5 separate regions of the Homo sapiens genome follow, and all the other regions are reported to be linked to region 5. Evidence: microRNA targets listed by miRTarBase, many of them from high-throughput screens and not tested one by one. Region 5 holds a microRNA gene; each other region holds the end of a gene's coding sequence.

Region 1 (4,560 bases), not on the chromosome of region 5:
CATGGGCAACAGAACCAGGAGGCTAAAAAAAGCAGTGGGCAGAATGTTCTAGATCACTGAGCTCACAGTACTTGGAGCAGAAACAGGAGGTCAAGAAGGAAAATTGAGGTGAATCAATTGCCTGAGGGGAGGTCACAGACCTGAGAATAAAGGTGGAGCCTCTGAGGTTCTACTGATTTCTCCTTACCTTTTCTTCTTTTTTCTTAAGGGGATGAGAACAATCCCCTTAAGAAAATCCCCTTTGTTATCTGAAGGATCTCAGCTAGGGTGGGATGTGGCTGGGATTGCATGGGTGCATCTGTTCTTAGGCCTGAACTTTGGCATGGGACAGCCCCAGTTTTAACTTTTGTCCTGCCACTTTTTCGCTATGCCTAAATAACAGAACCTCTCGGCCTCCATTTCTTTGTCTGTAAGATGAGGGCAACATGAGTGCCCGTCTCAAATGTGCAATAAATGGTGGCTATGATTATGATAAATACATACTTAAATCAGGGGATGTCACTCTTCACTTTGATTCTGGTTCCAGAATCGGGATGAACATCGAGGTGGGGAACATTTCTTATACAGGAGCCATCATCTCCTGGTCGTCCTCGGAGCCCTGCCTGGAGGACTATTACCATATTATGTACAGGCCCAACTGGAACAGCATCTTCTCTGGCTATCTTCGCTACAGCTTCCACCACGAGGAGAAGGTGCCTCGAACGATCAGCTCCGTGGTGCTGGAACATCTTGCCCCTTCCACTCTCTACTTCCTGTGCATCAGCTGTAAGAAGGCTGCCTTCCCTTACAGGCACTACTGCACCATGTTCCACACCCTGGATAAGAGTCCGCTGGCTCCTGGAAGCTCCCTGGTAGACCCCCAGATCTCCCTTTGGGTGCTGATGGCCATTCTGCTGGCCTGCTTCACAGCCGTCTTGGCCTTCATCTGCCTCCAGTTCTGGTGTGTCCGTTGCCATGAGCCGCGATGGTCTTACAGGGCTGGCCACATGGAGGAGGCCAATGGGTTGGTGAGATGGCCAGAGGAGGCCCCGGATCTTGGTCAGAGGGAGGAAGACCTGCAGGGGCTCCCCCTGGTGGAAATGCCACGCAAGAACTCCAGAGATGGAGCTGAACTGGATCCCGAAGCCAACCAGGATGCCCCTGATGCGGGTGCCTTACAGAGGGGGGGTGGTGACCCACCCGCTATACTGCCTCATTGTGGGGAATGAGAGTGGGGAGGAGAGCGCCCGCATCATGTAGCCTAAAGCTTTCCACACAGTAGGTCGTTTGTACAAATGTGTCTATAGACTACCCATTTCTCTCCCATCAAACGTCACTGCTATTGTAGGTCACCTGGGTTGGATGAATGCCCCATGACAAAGCTTCTCAAGCTGGAAAATGTATCCCCCAGGGTATGCCAAGGCACAAACGAGGCATCTCAGCAGCAGCGTCCACTCGGAGGACACAGTTAAGAATTGAAAGCATTGTTTTAACATTAAAACAAACATGGATATGTTATAAAGTAGAAAGCAAAAATTTGCATGACAAATAAAACACAGCACTTGAAGGAAACACTTGAGTTACAAGTAGGCTCTCAGAGGTACACTTTTGGGCAAAGGTAGATGTCCAGTTTCCTCTGCCCTTGAGGGGATTATTTGGAAATAATTTGGGATTATTTGGAAATAATTTGTGAGAACCCTTGCTCTGGAGTGTTTTCCAACTTTTAGGCAATCACATACCACCGCTCTCTATTTTTTAAAACCATGGATTATCTTCACTATTATTAATAATACTTTCCTTTAAATTGACTCATTTTTTAAGCGTAAACTTATTTTCAAAGACAGCCTTATATTACTCCATAAGTGAAAAACCAGCACCCTCCTGCTGCAAACAGAAGGGAAGAGACATAAGAATAAACATCATGAAAACAAGATAATATTAAATAATCTGACTTAGCTTCTATTGCCTGCCAGTGATTCTGAGCTTAATGCCTGCTTGCTTGTCTTTGATAAAAAGGGAGATCCAGTGTTGGAGAGGTAATAAAGACATATTAGCACCAATATTTGTCTTTCTCCTTGATATAGCATAAGGTTTGAAAGAGAATCGAAAAGGGAAGTGCTGTTTTTACTTTGCGAGTCAGTGTTAGTTAAATGCCATGTCTGTGAACCACCTCAAATGCTGTCAGTCAGCTTCCCTTGATTTGAGAAAATTGTCTTGACCAGACTAGGCAGGCTGTTCTGGAGAAGACGCCTGTACTCTCCAAGCATCATCCAAGACCTTCCCAGTACCCTCTTATATCTATAGAGCACAAAATCCCAGAATCACAGGACGACACTGCAGTGAATCAACTAAGAAACAGCAGGAGCTGAGAAGCCAAGACGAGAAGCCCCACATCCCTATTCCCTTGCCTACCTCATGCATTCCCTGCTCGGCACCCAGACTTTTGCCCCCATTCCTGCTACTTGTGAACAAATAAAGATTCATATACTCACAGCTGTTTCTGCCTGGATCTTATTGCTGCCTTTTTCCTTTCTCTTTAGAGATAAGAGTCTCGCCCTGTCAGCCAGGCTGGAGCGAAGTGGTACAATCATGCTCACTGCAGCATAACACTCCTGGGCTCAAAGGATCCCCCTGCCTTAGCCTTCCAAGTAGCTACTGGTGCATGCCGCCATGTCTAGCTAATTTTTTATTTTTTATTTTTTTGGTAGAGACAGGGTCTCGCTATGTTGTCCAGGCTGTTCTCAAATTCCTGGCCTGAAGTATCCACTGGTCTCGGTCTCCTGAAGTGCTGGGATTAAAGGTATGAGCCACTGTGCCTGACCTCATTGCTGCCTTTATCTCTGCACCTTCTTACTCTTCTAATTAAGAGACACTTTTCTATTTGCTTTTTCTCACCAACCCTCTTCTAGGCAGGGTAGGGCAGGACTACTTACCTTGGATCCATAGAGGTAATAAGGCTGGACGTTGGCAGGTTTGTCTCGTTGTGGTTCTTGGGTGAAAGGAATGGCAGTCCGCACAAAACTAGTAGAAGCATAGGGATGGGAAAGAGTTAATATGGTCCTAATATTATTCTCCATGGGACACAGATAACAGGAGTGCTTCCTGGCCAGGTGAAGGTTTGCACTGGTACAAGTGCACTGTTTGTTAGGTGGTTGACTATAAAGGTACTAAACTCTTCTGACATCTTCCCATTCAACTGCCGTCTCCTTTCTATAGATGGGAAAAATTCAGTCTAGATTCCTGGGCTCAACCAGGGGCTTGTGGCTGCTCCGAATGACACTAGGCAAGAAACTAAGAGTGGACTTTCTCTAGGGCTCCACTCCTCTACCTCCAGTTTGGTTTCTCAAGAGCAGAGTTCAGCAAACTCTTTCTCAAAAGAGCCAGGCAGCAAATATTTTTAGCTTTGGAAGCCAGACGGTCTCTGTTGCAAGTACTCAACTCTGCTGTTGCAGCATGGAAGCACCCACAGACAATAATAAACAAATGAGCATGATCGAGTTCCAATAAAACTTTATCAAATACAAATCATTTTCACTTGTCACCAAATATTATTCTTCTTTGGATTTTTTCCCCTCAACCACCCAAAAGTGTGAATACTATTCTCAGCTCATGGGCTTTACAAAAACAGTCAGCAACTAGATGTGGCCTGTGAGCCACAGTTTGCTGCTCCCTGCTCAAGAGTGTTAAAGCTCCTAAATCTTTATAGAACTGGAAATCTATCTCACTTAGTGTGTGGATCCAGGTGCATTTGTGGATATCTCCCATACCCTTTCATTCATTCAACACACACTCATTCAATACTGGCCTTGAGCCAAGGCTTGGAGATACCTAGAAGATCTGCAGATGAATACATTTTTTTTGCATCCTTACATACTTATTTTGTATGTGAATATATATGCCTTACTCTTCCACTGGGTTATGAAACTTTGTGGGGATAAAGAAATTAGGTCTTGTCTCTACCTCAGTGCCTGGCCCCGGGCCGTGTGCACCTTGCAGGAGGCAAGTTCCACTTTGTCATGCGTATGTGTGCTCTGCAAATGTATGCTGTTTTGCAGGCATGCTTTCAGATACGTGGATATCCTTACAAACATACAATCTGATCATGTCATCTCCTTTCCTCAAACTCTTTCAGGGTTAATAAAAATGCACGATCCTGCCCTGGCCTGTAGAGTACTGCACAATCTGTTCCTGTGTTATCTTTCACAGCACCATTTCCCACCCGACTAGTTTTACCCTCATCAACTTCTTGGAGAAACCCTTAGAAACTTGTCTGGAATATTCTTCTCCTGCCTTTTTGCCTTATTTATTCCTAGTCATCCTTTGCATCTTAACTCCAGCATTACTTCCTCAAAGAGGAAGCCTCCGTTGAGGTTTGCATGACTTTTTGGACTGGAATAGGTGGTACTGTTACCACTGTCATGGCCCTGTGGGCTTTCCTTCATCTCCTTATTCACTGTTTGTAATGGTACATTTGTCATGTGATTGATCACCCACATCCTCCTCTAGTCTGAAGACTCAAGAGGCAGGAAGGTATCTGCTCACCATGGCATGCCCCATGTTTTACTGGAGCAGGAAAACACC
Region 2 (4,560 bases), not on the chromosome of region 5:
AATCCACAGCCCAAGCCCAGCCCATTGCTCTGCCTGTTAAAGAGAAGGGAGCAGTTGTGTTAAACAGCAGCAGCACAGAGATACTGGCAGTAAAAGAATACATGGAAAGTATGTTCAGATAGGAGAGCCTTTCTCCTATAGAGAAAGGAGCATGAAAAGACTGCATTAAAAGGAAAGGTTTAGGCCGGGTGCGGTGGCTCACACCTGTAATCCCAGCACTTTGGGAGGCCGAGGCAAGTGGATCACTTGAGGTCAGGAGTTCGAGACCAGCCTGGCCAACATGGTGAAACCTGCCTCTATTAAAAGTACAAAAATTAGTCAGGTGTGATGACATGCACCTGTAATCCCAGCTACTCGGGAGGCTGAGGCAAGGGAATCACTTGAGCCTGGGAGGCGGAGGTTGCAGTGAGTGAAACCCTGTCTCTTTTTCTTTTTCTTTCGAGACGGAGTCTTGCATTGTCACCCAGGCTGGGGTGCAGTGGTGTGATCTCAGTTCACTGCAACCTCTGCCTCTCGGGTTCAAACAATTCTCTGCCTCAGCCTCCCAAGTAGCTGGGATTACAGGTGCCTGCCACCACGCCTGGCTAATTTTTTGTATTTTTAGTAGAGACAGGGTTTCACCATCTTGGCCAGGCTGGTCTTGAACTCCTGACCTCGTAATCCACCTGCCTTGGCGCCCCAAAGTGCTGGGATTACAGGCGTGAGCCACTGTGCCTGGCCGAGCCTTTCTATACTATTAGTTTTTTTTTCTAGTTTGGTATATTTTCAGGGCTTTAGGAAGGCTGGGAGGTGGTGATGTGGTAGTGGTTTTTTTCTTTTTTGAGATGGAGTCTTCGCTATGTTGCCCAGGCTGGAGTGCAGTGGTACGGCCTTGGCCCACTGCACCCTCTGCCTCCTGGGCGCAAGTGATTCTTCCGCCTCAGCCTCCCAAGTAGCTGGGATTACAGGTATGTGCCACCATGCCCGGCTCATTTTTGTACTTTTAGTAGAGATGGGGTTTTGCCATGTTGGCCAGGCTGGTCTCGACCTCCTGACCCCAAGTGATCTGCCCGCCTCAGCCTCACAAAGTGCTTGGATTCCAGACGTGAGCCATTGCACCCGGCCAGATGTGATAATATTTATACTTGTCATGACTTCTAGCATAACTCTCACCATGGTTCTCTGTCCCATTCTGCAGTTGTTTTTTGAGGACAGCATTGATGATGCCAAGTACTGTGGGCGGCTCTATGGCTTAGGCACAGGAGTGGCCCAGAAGCAGAATGAGGATGTGGACTCTGCCCAGGAGAAGATGAGCATCCTGGCGATTATCAACAACATGCAGCAGTGATGGCGCCAGGCTCTGCAGGGTGGGCCTGATCCCAGAGTGGTGCTTACTGTGCTGACTGTGTACTTATCTTCCCCAAGAGAAAATGCTTCTTTTGAGCACACTGTACCTACCATCTGCATTGAGCAGAAAGACTTTTGTTTTACTGAAGACAAAAGATGTTTTTATTTTAGACCCAGAAGAGAGGAGTTTGCTCTGAATTTGTAAATAAGTCTTCCCCATTCCTCATACTCGAGCCTCTCCTCTCTGGTTGCCTCCTGCCACCAGCATCCATGGCTCATTTGACACCTTTTTAAATATCAGGACAAGTCTGAAACAAAGTAGTAAAATGTATATAACTCTTACCTGTTGTCATTCTTTTTCTTTTAAATTTGTTGCTAATCTCTGATAATGAAGATTCTTACTCTGATTCTCAGCTGAGCTGTGAGGGCTTCCAGGGAAAATGGAACAAAATGGTGTTCTTAGGTAATGGGTTGTAGATACTGAGTCTTCCTTTCCTTTTCTGACCCTTCTCGAGGACATTTGCTTTCCTCACACTTTTGTAGTCTCTCTTTACATATTACTATATGGAAATGAATTGCTCTGTGCTGAAATTTGAAGACCAGATAATGAAACTGAAAAGCAAACAATTTTACTGAATCTGTCTACCCTTCATTCATGAGAACTCCAGAATGAGTGTTGACCACTGAAGCATCTTTTAAGTCTGTGTTCCATTGTGCCATTCAGGTTTGCTGTCACATATGCATCATCTGAAATCATTTGAAATTTTTGTACAATAAAATATCCTGGATTTGATCCTGAAGGAAACTAGTAAGATCAGATTTTTGGGTCATGTCTGTTGTATTTTCAGTAATGTGATTTCAGATGGTCATCTGGATTCTCCCACTTCTCTACTCCATTATTTCTCTACTTTTCCTTCCAGCAAACCTGAAACGTGAGGGAGATGGATTAATGTGAGTAACAGGAATGTGTCTTTAAAAAGCTAGAGTGGTTACATTTAATCAGGCAGTAAGATAATTTGGGTTCTTGAGTTGTTTTGGAGTAATATCCCACAACTGGGGTAGGAAGCTCAGGACTTTTTTCTTTAAAGCTAGTCATTTCAAAAGCATATTGTATTTTTTTGAATGACTACAGTATGGACAATTTCAAAAACCAAAACCCACTTTGGATTGGTGGAAGTAAAAACTGGTAACTCACTCAAGTGAATGAATGGTCTTGCATTTTAAAAGCTTATGGGAAACTCAATTTGAAATGATTAGAAAATGTCAAGTATTATAAGCTGGTATTTAAGATGCTTGTAAATACTATTTATGTTTTTAATTTTGTAAAATAAAGATTTCTTTTTAACCACTGGCATTAAGGTTTGGTCTTTCATAGCTATGGATTGCTGGCTCTGGAAGATGGTCATTTGCCATCAGTGAAATAAGAGCATCTTGCCTCCATTGTCCCCAAGTTGGCTTACATACAAAATATCACTTGGGGGGTGGGTTCGGGAATAAAAAAAATACATATCACTTGGTAGGAAGCTTTTCACGAGCACCTGTGTAAATGGAATTGTCTCTTCATACTCAAGATTGTTGGGTCTTAATATTATAGAATTAAACCAGTCTAATATTTCCTGGGGTCACTCCACTATATATGGTGGATTAGCTTGTTAATTAGTGGGATTCTTTTAAACAACCTGAACTTCAGATATCCTAGAGTTGGCTCAAGACTTTGTTTCCAGCCATTTCTGTTGACACAAAATATGTGGGGTTTTAAGAAGTCTGGTACAGGGGCAGATATGGAATTGTGACTGGGAAGTTGACAAAACAAGAGATTTATCACTGTAATTTCTGGTGAAACAGCAGTCAGTGGTTCTCAACCAGGGTGCCCTGGCATGCTGGTGACTGTGAGCGCTATGCAGATACCCTTCCAAATTTGAATTAAAGCAGGACATTTAATATTTTCTACAATTAAGGACTTACTTACATGTCAGGAGAAATGCTCAAAGGGTTGAGGAACTCAGTGTTGAGTGTGGGGTTTGGTCATCATTGCATGTGAGAGTTAAGAGCTTAGAGTAGTGCTTTAGCAAGAAAGAGCACAAGTCTTGGAACTGGCAAGAACTTTGTGTGTATGAGTGCATATAGGTCTATGTGAATGCTCATCCTCAAAAAGTGATGGCACTGTAGGGTAACCAAGAGAATCACTTAAGGTGTAATTCTTTCGAGGTTTAGACAGGGTCTCACTCGGTCATCCAGGCTGGAGTGCAGTGGCATGATCTTAGCTCACTGCACCCTCACCCTCCTGAGTAGCTGGGACTACAGGTGCATGCTACCATGTCCAGCTAATGTTTATATTTTTTTAGTAGAGATGGGGTTTCACCATGTTGGGCAAGCTGGTCTCAAACTCCTGACCTCAAGTGATTTGCCTGCCTTGGCCTCCCAAAGTGCTTACAGTCATGAGCCACCGTGCTGGCTTGTAATTCTTTTTTTTTTTTTTTTTTTTTTTTTTTTTGAGACAGAGTCTTGTTCTGTCGCCCAGGCTGGAGTGCAGTGGCATGATCTTGGCTCACTGCAACCTCCGCCTCCCAGGTTCAAGCAATTCTCCTGCCTCAGCCTCCCAAATAGCTGGTGCCAGAAACAGTCAGTTCCTCTTCAAACTTCTTTGTTTCTTTTAGCGACTAATGTCATTTCACATTGCTAGAAGATACATTCTTGTTCTCTAAACAAGCCTTTCCATCTTTGCCATGCCTAAACATGCCCAAACATGCCTTAACGGACAATCCCTCCCTCCCCTCCTTTCTTTTCTTTACAAGTTACGCATTTAGGCTGGGCACAGTGGCTCACGCTTGTAATCCCAGCACTTTGGGAGGCCAAGGCGGGTGGATCATGAGGTCAGGAGATTGAGACCATCCTGGCTAACACAGTGAAACCCTGTCTCTACTAAAAACACAAAAAATTAGCCGGGCATGGTGGTGGGCACCTGTAGTCCCAGCTACTTGGGAGGCTGAGGCAGGAGAATGGCGTGAACCCAGGAGGTGGAGGTTGCAGTGACCCAAGATCGCGCCACTGCACTCCAGCCTGGGCAACAGAGACAGTCTCAAAAAAAACAAAAAACAAAACAAAAAAAAAACAACAAGTTACGCATTTAAATGTTTCAGTTTACTCTGTTTGGAAAAGTTTTACCACTCCTACCCCTTCTTCCCCATCTACCCTATTTGGAAAAATTTCAAGTTTTAGCCAATCGGGTTAGCT
Region 3 (4,373 bases), not on the chromosome of region 5:
TGGGGCTGTGATAAAAATTAAAGAGAAAAAAAATCACTCCTTATTTCCACAGCTCAAAGATAATAACTGCTGGCAATTTTTTAACATGTTTTCTTCACGTAAATACATGTAATTGTCACATATCTCCCAGAGAGTCTGACACCCAACACTTTACTCCTAAATGCCTCGCCTTTTCCATCCTGGGAAGAAGCACCGGGCAAGGTGGCTTACGCCTGTAATCCCAGCACTTTGGGAGGCCGAGGCAGGAGGATCACAAGGTCAGGAGATCGAGATCATCCTGGCTAACACAGCAAAACCCTGTCTCTACTAAAAATACAAAAAATTAGCCGGTCGTGGTGGCAGGCGCCTGTAGTCCCAGCTACTTGGGAGGCTGAGGCAGGAGAATGGCATGAACCTGGGAGGCGGAGCTTGCAGCAAGCCGAGATGGCGCCACTGCACTCCAGCCTGGGCGACAGAGCGAGAGTCCACCTCAAAAAAAGAAAAAAAAAAGAAGAAACACTTTCTCCTATATAACCACAATGACAGGATTCCACAGGAGAAAATTTTCAGTCATTCCCTAAGACTTAGTCTTTCCTCTGTTTCCACAGTTGTCCAGACAACGTCTTTGGTGGATAGCATTTTTTTTTTCTTTTTGTTTTTTGTTTTTTTTTTTTTTGAGACCGGATCTTGCTCTGTTGCCCAGGCTGAAGTGCAATGGCGCAGTCTTCGCCTCCTGGGTTCAGCCTCCCAAGTAGCTGGGACTATAGGCACGTGCCACCACGCCCGGCTAATTCTTGTAGTTTTAGTAGAGATGGGGTTTCACCATGTTGGCCAGGCTGGTCTCGAACTCCTGACCTCAAGTGATCCACCCGCCTCGGCCTCCCAAAGTGCTGGGATTACAGGCGTGAGCCACCACTCCCAGCCAAGGTGCCACACTTTTAAATAGCCAGATCTCGTGAGGACTTACTGTCACGAGAACAGTACCAAGAGGATGAGGCTAAACCATTCATGAGGAATCCACCCTCATAATCCAGTCATCTTGCACCAGGCCCCACCTCCAATACTTGAGATTACAATTGGAGGATTTGGGCAGGAACACAAAGCCAAACTATTTCACTGGCCAGCGACCAGAGAAGGCTCCTGGTTGGGGGACATCTGGGTTAAGCCTTCAAGAGGGATGGCCAGTGGGAGGCCAGGCACGGTGGCTCACGCCTGTAATTCCAGCACTTTGGGATGTGGAGGTGGGTGGATCATTTGAGTACAGCAGTTCGATACCAGCCTGGCCAACATGGTGAAACCCCATCTCTACTAAAAATACAAAAAAATTAGCTGGGCATGGTGGTACACGCCTATAATCCCAGCTATTTGGGAGGCTGAGGCACGAGGATTGCTTGAACTCAGGAGGTGGAGGTTGTAGTGAAGTGAGCTCACGCCAGTGCACTCCAGCCTGGGCGATGGAGCGAGACTCCATCTCAAAAAAAATAAAAGGGATAGCAGATGGGAATTCTCTAGGAGGATGGTGGGTGCAGGGTAGGCATTGCCCACAGAGGGTAGAGGCTGAAGAGCCACACAGGCAAGGGTAGCCAGGTTACACAGAGGCTAAGGACGGTCTCTCCTGTTCTAGATGAGTGTGGCATCGTGGCCCAGATCTCAGAGCCCTTGGCTGCTGCAGACATCCCAGCCTACTACATCAGTACTTTCAAGTTTGATCATGCACTTGTGAGTGTCCAGCGCCAGACCCCTCCAGGGCAGGGCCGGGGTGGGGAAGCAGGTTCCTGGGCTCACGGGCAGGCATCTGCCTCCTCTACCCCTGCACAGGTCCCCGAAGAGAACATCAATGGTGTCATCAGTGCCCTGAAGGTCAGCCAAGCAGAGAAGCACTAGAAGGGTCTCTTCTGCTCCTCCCTGCCGCCGCCCGGGCCCAGCCCTAACCCTGAAGATTGATCTTGCAGTATTTCTCTACAGACTGGAAAATCAGCCTGGGGACCCTGAGGAAGGGGCCTCTGTGGGAGACTCCCTCGATTGCCAATCCCTCCAGGGCAGGGGCCCACGCCAAGGCCTCTCCATGCCCTCCTGCCTTCCCGGAGCCCCCCGACCCTCCAGAGAACGACCTTTCTCTTCCCTACCTCCCCCACCCCGGAAAATGCTTTCGGAGGCCCAGGGAGCTTGTGAGCTGATCCGCCTTCTCATCCGGCCTCACCCACGGCCAGGGGCAGATGCCGAGGGAAGCCGGTCCCTCCTGCGAGACACCGGTGTGCCAGCTGTCATGTCACCTTGCAGGGCTGGGGCTGGCGGGGTGGGGCCGAGTTTGGGGTGCCCTGGAGGGTTTGGGGGTGAGTACTGTGGTCACTGGTCTCTGCTTCCATCAGCTCAGGGCTGGTTCCCTCGGAGTGGAGGCCAGCGTGGCCCCCTCAGGTCATCGGGGCTGGTGAGGCTCAGACAGGAACCCAGGTGGGATCCCCGAGCTGGGAAGGACCCAGACTCCCCCTGTACCTCGCCTGCCAACCACAGGGCCTGGGCCCGACTCCCAGCAAGACTGCCAAGAGGGCCCTGTCCAGACCCTCCCCCACAAGCACTCAGTCCTTGGGGGAGGAGGGAGGGTCCCAGGAGACCCACCAGCCTGGAGCACCAGCTCCTGTCCCCTCGGCTCTCCCTGGACCCGACTTGGGCAGGTAGAGCCTCAGCTTCCCCCAGTAGGGACATCCCTGGCTTTCCAGGCCTGAGGTTTCTTAGGTGGTGTCCCACCTCCCCAACAGACAACTAGACCAGCATAGGACTCCCCGCCGTCCTCCTCCCTCCTCTGCCCCCAAGTCACCTGCCTGCCCACCCGCCCCTTGGCTGGGGGCTGTGGCATTCATGAGTACTTGACCCAGGAGGCAGCTTAACTGAGCCTTAATAGAGAAAACCATACTTTGTTTTAGTTTTTTATTTAATGTATTTGCACCCAGGGTGCTCTTGGCGGTAGTTTCTGTTTGGCAGGGATAGGACCTGTTTGAGTTCTGTCAAGGGAGCCTGGAGGCTCTGTGTCACTAAGCTGGTGCTCTGTGGCTCCAGGGACAGGCAGTGGGAATCGGGAGATGTCACAGGAGCCTGGGCCCTCTCTTCTGAAGGGAAGCTAGGAGCAGAGATCTGTTACAAGACGCTGGAGCCGCTGGCACCCCACATGGGAACTCCCACCAACCAGCTGTAGTTCTATCTGAGCACCGGAGGGGGTGAGGGAACCCGAGGGCCATGGGGAGGTGGACAGCCAGGTGGCAGGCCAGCTGAGTGGTCATGTCCAGGAGGCATGGGGTTAGCCGTGGTGTCCCTTCCAGTGGGGTGGTTTTCTGAATGAGCAGGACCAAGGGCCCCTGTGGTTTTGGCTCTGGCGGGGGTTTTTTTTTTTTTTTTTGAGATGGGAGTCTGGCTCTGTTGCCTAGGCTGGAATGCAGTGGCACGATCTTGGCTCACTACACCCTCCTCCTCCCAGGTTCAAGTGATTCTCCTGCCTCGGCCTCCCAAGTAGCTGGGATTACAGGCACGCACCACCACGTCTGGCTAGTTATTGTATTTTTTAATAGAGACGGGATTTCGTAACATTGCTCAGGCTGGTCTTGAACTCCTGAGTTAAGTGATCCGCCTGCCTCGGCCTCCCAAAATGCCGGGATTACAGGCGTGAGCCACCACACCCAGCCGAGTTGTGCTGTTTCTGTGGTCAGAGGAGAAGGGATATTTTCTAGTCCTGACAAAGTGTTCCCTGCTTCTCTGAGTGGGACCCTCTGAGCCCTGGAAGCCCACCAGAAGGAGAAGCTGTTCTTTAAAATCCTTGTGGGTGTTGAAGGCCCACCACATTAATTAGAAACCAACTTTTTTTTTTTTAAGTTAATTTGTTTTGCACAAAACTCCAGAACAAAACTCGTACATTGCTGGTCCCAAAAGGGAGGTGGCCAAGTGGGGCAGGGCTGTGGTGGAAGCCCTGAGTCCCCTTTCTGACCTTGCAAGGCCTTGATTTTCCTTTCTGTCATTTCCCCCTGACGGTGTCACTTCTCTGCCTTTCCTTCCCGCCGTGCAAGTGTGTCGGCCCCGTGACCCCAGAGTCGTGTGTCCCCTAGACTTCCTAGGACGTATCTATTGTACACACCTATAAATACCTGTGTTTTATGTTGATAGAGATATATACTGTAAATAGCATATATACTTGAGCAATATATATGTTAATATATACTGTGTGCGCAGTCCGTGGACACAGCCCCCCGCTGTGTGTGCACACGTGTATGGGCGTGATGGCCTCCACCCCGCACCGTCTGCCATACACGCGGGCACATTTGAGCCACCATATATTTTTAATTCAAGTATATAGGCAATACGATTATTACAGAAGCCGATGGGTTCCCTCAGACCTGACTTGAGAGAAC
Region 4 (4,560 bases), not on the chromosome of region 5:
GGGAGGGGCTTGTCTATTTTATTTGCTGTTGCAGCCCCAGTGCCTTCAATACTTTGAATGAGGATATATGGACGCATACAAAATATGGTGGGACTTTACATGTTTCAAGGTAAAAAGCCTCCTGGCAGTAAACAGTGTTGTTAATATATCTCTGGGCCTTATATCTGAGCTAACACAAATAAGACTAATTGGCCTTTGACCCCTGGATTCTTTATTTCTTTCGTTTAATAATTTAAGGCCATTCTTGACTGGATCCTCTTTAGTTACCACAAATCCTTTTAAAACAAAACAGGAAATGCAAAACAAAACAGTTCTCTTAATAATGATTTAAACAGCAGGATTGTTCTTGAATCTTAGCATAACCAAGGCTTTTTACACAGAGATGTTACACTGATTAAATGATGGTTCTACATGGATTGCTAAGGTACCAGTTTATCAGCTTTGTCCATAATAAACTTGTGGATTCCAATTAATCCCATCTTCTATTTGTGAAGTAGGTTTTTAGTCTCAGTGAATGACCTTGCAAATGATGCCAATAAATTTTCTCATATTCTAACAAACTGCCTGTTTGGTTTATCAGGGTCCTTTTAAATTCCTTTTCTTTAAAATTAAAGTGTTTGTTAAAGACACCTGCTCAGTCTGGGGCTAGCTGCAAAACCACTAAGCATGCATCACGTAATTTGTTGATGAAAAGTTTTTAAGTATCACCAGCAAAGAATCTTTGTCATACCAGCTCAGTTCCTTCCTTCAAAGAACAGATTATTCTTAAGTAATTTCGATAATATTATAGAGCAATAAGAGCTCTCATTGTTTAGATGCATTTGTTGAAGCTATGTCAATGGTAGTTATCCTGTTGCACTGAATTACTTCTTTAACAACATACTTTTTTCTTGCTTTGAACAGACTGTACAGTGGAAGCCTGGTGCACGGACTATGCCAGCAACTGCTAGCATCGACCTCTGTAGAAAGTCTCCTGAGCATATGTCCTGAGGCTAAGCAACTTTATGAATATCTATTCAATGCCACAAGGTCATATGCCCCCGCTGAAATATTCCTACCAAAAGGTAGATCAAATTCAAAAAAAAAAAGGCAGAAGAAACAGAATACCAGCTGTTCTAAGAACAGAGGGAGAACCACTGCACACACCAAGTGTTGGTATGAGGGAAACAACCGGTTTGGGTTGTTAATGGTTGAAAACTTAGAGGAACATAGTGAGGCCTCCAACATTGAATAAAACTCAGTTTGCATCAAACTAGATGTATTTAATATAATCCTTACTTAAAATTCTTCCGTTACCACCCTTGAAACAATTAGCTTTTTCTTTAGGACTGACCTGTTAGGGGATAAACATCACAATAATCTGAATTCCAAGTTATTTTGTATTTTGTTTTTAATAAATACAACCTGATTTAAGAAGCTTCTGTATTTCTAAATATGTTTGAAACCATGTTTATACTTCTCATGTTCCATTTCAGCAAGTTAATGGTAATATAGTCTATATGCTTTAAATTGCAGCAATTTAGCCAGCTACATTCTCAGAAAGTAGAAGTCTCACTCAATTATTGCCTTTAAGTAGCAGCTGGTTATCATTTCAAAAAGTTTTAAAAACAGTTTCCTCTTTGTACTTTAGTATGAAGTCTGGCCAATGAAAGTTAGAAGTGAGGATGCCAGACAGAAAACTGTCTCTACTAAAAGTAAGTACTTAGTCAATGAGACCATGACAGGATTGAAGAGCACTTTAGGTGCACTCCAGGTTTTAAAGGAGAAGTTGAAACTAATGGCTTCAGCCAAATAAGAAACAGCATCCTGAGCTGTTAGACCTGGAGAAGGAGGAAACAGTGAGAAGTGAAAATATCAAGAGATATATGCAGCAATACCAGACCCTATGCCCTCTTTATACTACAGATTTTGACCCATTAATGAGATGTGAAAGTATTTAATGAGTCATACCCAGCATTTTTTAATGAAAAAGTTAGAATGGAAAATATCAGATATACATATCATGTATTAGGTGATTGTGTAAAATATATTCCTTACTGTGGACTGTAGGGAAGAAGTTTAAAAGGTACTGCTCTGGAAAATACTGCCAAATAGAGGCTGCTAAAATTAGAAATACCCAGAGTTCTGAAAGTGCCGGCCAGTTCCAAATGAGAACTTGAAAATAAAGAGAACCAAGTAGAATAAATGCATTGGGCAAGATCTGAAAATATACTCAACCTTCATTTTACTTGTATTCATACAAATTGTGTTCTTCCTTCTGTACTCTCCCACTGGTATATTCCATCAGGAATAGCCCTAAAGGTAGCTTTAAAGCTGCCATTTTGAGCAGGCCTATGTACAGTTCCTAATATCTGATAAACAATTTTCTTTACTTTACTAGAATTACCATACTCTTAGAGAAATAAGCCCAGCATCAGCCAGTGTCAAACACACACCTGCCAAGTGTTGACTTTTACAAAAGGCACAATAAATCATTTGCCCCTAGAGTATTCAACCCTAACAATTACTTTGTTAAATAAGAGTTCTTGAAATAAGGAAATTTTTATTATTTTCAGAGGATTGCATGGGAGTTCCTCAGTAAGGTTATTTTTATAACCTTACTAACAACCATCTCCAAAGAGATGGTTACTCCCAGAAGAATCAAGAAAAGAGTAGTCAAGTACATCTATTTTTGAGAAGAAATGTTACTGGAAAATAAGGTATCTAATGAGGACTATAAACATGTGAGACCGGTGCTGGATGTAGTGGCTCACACCTGTAATCCCAGCACTTTGGAAGGCCAAGGCAGGCAGATCATTTGAGGTCAGGAGTTCAAGACCAGCCTGGCCGACATGGTGAAACCCCGTCTCTACTAAAAATACAAAAATTAGCCGGGCATCATGGAGGGCACCTGTAGTCCCAGCTACTCAGGAGGCTGAGGCGGGAGAACTGCTTGAACCCGGGAGACAGAGGCTGCAGTGAACCGAGATGGCGCCACTGTACTCCAGCCTGGGTGACAGAGCAAGACTGTCTCAAAAAAAAAAAAAAAAAGAAAAAAGAAAAACCATGTAAGACCGTTGTTATATCAAATCCTCCCTACCTTGATTCCTGGAGTTTGAAGCTAATCTGGAGACTATATTAATATAACTGTCCCATTTCCTGGGTTATCATCAACACTGCTTCTTAAAACCACTGAATTACATCTACCATGTTTTTCTTTCATTAAAAGTGTCCTCCTCCAGCAGAAGTAATAAGTCAGGTTCCTTTCTCTAACCATGGCACTCAGGACCATTCCACTGAAATTATCCAGCCTTGCAGTAAAGCAGTGACAGTCTAATAATGTCCCTTTAAGTATACTACTCTGGTGTATATCTTCTCCTACATGTATTAGATGAGAGGTCACAGGCACTTCACAGGAGTATGTAAGGTGGTTCACCGAAAAATGATGACATAGCACCTGAACCCCCTGCAGAAGACATTCTTGTTCAGGCTGCTTGGGAGACAACACACAATGAAATGACAAGAGATTATTTTATTAAGTTGGTGCAAAAGTAACTGTGGTTTTTACCCTTACATAAAGCAGTCTGTCAAGTGCAAAATGGCAAAGTGCAGACTGAATACTACAATAAGGAAACAGCGGTCACCAGGATGAGAAGAGGTTAAATCACAAGAAGATTCTCAGACCTGGCTTTTGACCTGGCTTTAAAGAATAGGAATTTTAAAATTGAGATCAGATATACATTAGGAACACCTGTGTAGAAGCAGAATATTGTACATCCCATATTCCCTTTCCAAAATCTAGTTTCCTATGTTTGCAATCAAGTGATTAGGTCCTGCTCTTTCTAATTCAGTTCTAACAAATGAAATCTCATCTTAGGCTTTGGAAACTGTCTTCAATTAGCAGTTCAAGTAACAAAAGGAACTCTGGGCAGCTAAGATGAATAAATTTTAGAGAGAAAGCTGCAGAGACAGGAAAACTTTTACTATAACCTAATCATGTTCTGTATTTAGTGGTGATAAAATTATACTGGAAGTCTATTTTTTAAAAGCACTTTTTGAGACACCTGGACCTTGAAAGTTTAATATGCATCCTGTAAATATAATCACAGGTCTTTCATGCCATTTGATCATGGGGAAAGAATTCAAATTAACCTTTTGACATCTGAATTTGAATTTCAGAAGATAAAGACCATAGCTAAAAAGCCCTTAGAATTATCTTTTTCTCCTTTGTGCACAAAAGGAAATAAATCAATGACTATGCCTCAGTTGCCCTACTTGCAAAATAAGGATTATAACAGTCCAAATTATTGTGTAAAAGATACAATAACAAGTATATTTAAGTTACTTAGCACAGTGCCTGATACTAAAAGTGTGTTATAAGTGATAGCCATTGTTATATCCGCACATGAAAAGCCAGGGCAAAGCAAGGAATGTGGGAAGAAGTGAGTGAGTGTTAAGCAGTACAAAGATTAAGACAACGTGAGACCAGAGTTGCCACAGGTTTAAGAGCAGAATTTTGCAGAGGCAAAGGAGATCAACACTATCAAATATGGTGAAGAAGAAAGATGGGCAGGAATGTGA
Region 5 (3,000 bases):
GCAGCTTGGTTATCAGGGCAATAGTGAGCCTTCCAGAGCTAGGGCAAACGTGTGGAGAGTTGTTTCCCTGGTTCTCTGTGGCTACAAGCTCTGCCTCTTGGCTTCCTCCCTGACCCCACCAGAGCAGCCTTTGATTTTTGCCTCTTTGAAACAGTGGTTAAAGTGTCCATTGTCAATCACCTGGAATTCCTGAGGGATGAGGAGCTGGAAGAAAGGCGAGAGAAGCGCAGGAAACAACTGGCTGAGGAAGAAACAAAGATAACTGATAAAGGCAAAGAAGATAAGGAGAACAGGGATCAGAGTGCACAGGTGATTCCCAAGGGCTGGGAGGATTCATCTTTGACTGTGTCTGCCGTAATGTGGTTTTGGCATACACATGGCACCAGGAATCACTGAAGAATCCTAGAACGTTCACGTTGAACCTGGGAAATTTTTTATTTCAAATTCACCATACATTGACCTGGTTTTTAGGGGAAAGAATTCAAACCTAGAGGGGAGATTTCTCAAGTGTCAAGGGAAAAACTGGAGCCAGAAGCAGAATGGCTTCTCACTCAACAGTCACACTGCATAGTCTCTACCGCCAAGGACAGCATCAAGACAAGGAGAAAAACCTTATCTAAGTCCATGCTCTTAGTCGCCCACTTCCATTTCTGTCGGTGAACTGCCAGTGTGGGGAATCTTACCGAGATGACCCCATTCCGTCATTTGAGTAAGATCAGCCTAGGTGTCAGATCAGAGAAAATGTTTGTACTCTGAACCCCATCACCACATGTCATTTTTTCTAGGGCTCACATGTATAAAATCACTAATACAATTTTGGTTTAGAAGGAAGTTACCTACTTTTTTCTGAAACTTCTGGGACCTCAGACAGAGATCTTTTAAATGTCTGAGTAAATGTTGATAGAATTATACATTACAGTGTATCACTTGATATAAAAGGGGGAAAAACTGATAGAAATACAAAGAAATAAGACTTGAGAGTGAAAGACTTTAGTATACCCTACTCAGCAGTTAAGGAATCAGGTAGATTAAAAATAAGGGTAGTGAAGTGTTCAGTTAAAATAACAAGGTTGATCTAACAAATATCTTTATATAGAACTTTTTACCTAATACACACATTGTTTCAAACTTGATATAGGATGAAAAATAAGTGAACCTAGCCTGTGACTGAAAAGACTAGAGTGGACAAAATAAAAAATAAGCCCCATGAAGGGAAAAAATACATAGATGAAACCAAGAAATTCTTGCTAGAATGATCATGATCGTGCCCATCCCTAAGGGGTTTTTATTATCCTTTCCTTCCATATTTATTTCCCCCTCAGCCCCAAACAATTCTTGAACCTGAGTATGTATAGAGAAATTGGTCATATATTTGCACAGTGAAATGATCACCTTCCTTTGGTCACATGGCCAAAGCATTCTCCATTAGATCACTGAACTCCTAGATGGTCTGGGTGGAGGATGGTGACTATTACAGTTGACCTCTATCTTAGGTGCTTGCAAAGTCCCACATTGGTCTATCCCTTCTTTTTGCAGTGTACTGCATCTAAGTCAAATGACTCCACTGAACAGAATCTCTCAGGTAACTCTCCTTCCCTTTCTCCCTTCTTACTAATCAATTGGTTGCTTCTTTATCCTGATAGTTCCGAGTAGCTGGCCCACATAGGCTGAAGATGGACACTGGTGCTCTGTGGGATGAGGTAGTAGATTGTATAGTTTTAGGGTCATACCCCATCTTGGAGATAACTATACAGTCTACTGTCTTTCCCACGGTGGTACACTTCTTCTCCGACTGGCTCTGTTCAGGTTCTTGTTCTGGTTATTATCTACTTTGTTCTGGCATGGGTAATGAGGTCATGTGTCTTGTTCATTTCCTGACTGCAACTCTGTCCTCTGAAACAGCATGTTCATGTACATCTTTGAAGTGGCTGGTCCTTTGATGACCACCATGGTGTGGCACTTCATGAGAATAACTGATGACAGTGGTTCTCAAATGCCAGTCCTCTGTGGAAACGAACAAAATCAAGGAGCTTTAATGCCTTTTTCATAAAGCTGAATTTATTCCATTTAAAAGGCTGTTTTTGTATTTAGAGATCATATTCCTAATTCTGTGGTACCAAAATATTTTTATTAAATGATGTTGATTGGATGTTTTTTCTTACATGGCTAAACTAAAAGTTGGCAACCCCTACATTAGTCTCTACTTTTTGTTCTTTTTTTAATTAAATTTTATTGGTCCATGGAATCTAAAAGTCTAGGAACATTGTCTTGGATAGTGTGCTGTTCATGAAGGTAGCTCTCTGGGCTTAGTGGTATGACTGCCGTATGTTTCCTATTCCCTCTGATCTTCTTAACAATGGTCAGTAGCCATTTTGTGATTCTATCAGTTGGTTCATGTGATATCATATGTCTCCCCCACCCATATTTCCTCAGAACATTCTTCTGCCTCCCTACACCTGTCTCCTTTCGCACTTGAGTTGGAAAATGATTGTACCAAAGCCTGCACAATATTTTTTAAAGCAGTGAAGTAGGGTAGATGCCTTGGTACCCTTAATCTAGCAAAAGATCTTTAAAAGAGTCTGTCACCATGTAAAATGGCCTTTTGCCTGCTGCCCTTATTAGAGGATTCTGCTCATGCCAGGGTGAGGTAGTAAGTTGTATTGTTGTGGGGTAGGGATATTAGGCCCCAATTAGAAGATAACTATACAACTTACTACTTTCCCTGGTGTGTGGCATATTCACACTTAGTCTTAGCAGTGTTGCCTCCATCAGACAAAGTTGTAGATGTTCCTTGGATAATTTGGACTGGAAGAAAAGAGACATGGAAGGGGACAGATGGTGTTTAGGGTGAGGCAGATGTCATTATAAAGTGACTTGTCTTTCATTAATTGGAGCATATAATTATTTTACCTTTGGGCATGAACTCATTTTGCTATTCTTCAACTGTGTAATGATTGCATTTTATTAGTAATAGAACAGGAATGTGTGCAAGGGAATGGA

Evidence for each region. Region 5 holds the annotated microRNA hsa-let-7f-5p (UGAGGUAGUAGAUUGUAUAGUU, at 1,697-1,718, shown strand). A microRNA usually pairs through its seed, bases 2 to 8, with sites in the 3' UTR of a target mRNA and lowers its output. Matches are read on the target gene's strand: a 7mer-m8 pairs with bases 2 to 8, a 7mer-A1 pairs with bases 2 to 7 and ends in A, and an 8mer does both.
Region 1: miRTarBase lists FNDC9 as a target of hsa-let-7f-5p. Seed matches in the 3' UTR shown: 8mer at 2,388-2,395.
Region 2: miRTarBase lists CNOT8 as a target of hsa-let-7f-5p. The part of its 3' UTR that is shown has no 7-base or 8-base seed match.
Region 3: the mRNA of CASTOR2 is a reported target of hsa-let-7f-5p. Seed matches in the 3' UTR shown: 7mer-m8 at 2,102-2,108.
Region 4: the mRNA of ASTE1 is a reported target of hsa-let-7f-5p. The part of its 3' UTR that is shown has no 7-base or 8-base seed match.

The regions. Positions count from the first base shown.
Region 1 is chr5:157,339,510-157,344,069 of GRCh38, reverse strand. FNDC9 (fibronectin type III domain containing 9) reads left to right here. Exons shown (of 2, transcript NM_001001343.4): 2 at 527-2,472. The coding sequence starts at 534. The coding sequence ends at 1,208. It overlaps CYFIP2 (cytoplasmic FMR1 interacting protein 2), which reads right to left. Exons shown (of 31, transcript NM_001037333.3): 23 at 2,913-3,000. Among named protein-coding and RNA genes, the nearest start is that of FNDC9, 3.9 kb to the left of the region's middle.
Region 2 is chr5:154,874,113-154,878,672 of GRCh38, forward strand. CNOT8 (CCR4-NOT transcription complex subunit 8) reads left to right here. Exons shown (of 7, transcript NM_001301073.2): 7 at 1,178-2,680. The coding sequence ends at 1,327. Among named protein-coding and RNA genes, the nearest start is that of CNOT8, 18 kb to the left of the region's middle.
Region 3 is chr7:75,022,837-75,027,209 of GRCh38, forward strand. It overlaps CASTOR2 (cytosolic arginine sensor for mTORC1 subunit 2), which reads left to right. Exons shown (of 9, transcript NM_001145064.3): 8 at 1,604-1,698; 9 at 1,798-4,373. The coding sequence ends at 1,863. It also overlaps a transcript of RCC1L not described here. Among named protein-coding and RNA genes, the nearest start is that of RCC1L, 49 kb to the right of the region's middle.
Region 4 is chr3:131,010,731-131,015,290 of GRCh38, reverse strand. ASTE1 (asteroid structure-specific endonuclease 1) reads left to right here. Exons shown (of 6, transcript NM_014065.4): 6 at 904-1,416. The coding sequence ends at 1,234. It also overlaps a transcript of ATP2C1 not described here. Among named protein-coding and RNA genes, the nearest start is that of ASTE1, 14 kb to the left of the region's middle.
Region 5 is chrX:53,555,964-53,558,963 of GRCh38, reverse strand. It overlaps MIRLET7F2 (microRNA let-7f-2), which reads left to right and starts at 1,690; the gene lies at 1,690-1,772. It overlaps HUWE1 (HECT, UBA and WWE domain containing E3 ubiquitin protein ligase 1), which reads left to right. Exons shown (of 84, transcript NM_031407.7): 59 at 155-309; 60 at 1,537-1,582. MIR98 (microRNA 98) reads left to right here and starts at 2,623; the gene lies at 2,623-2,741.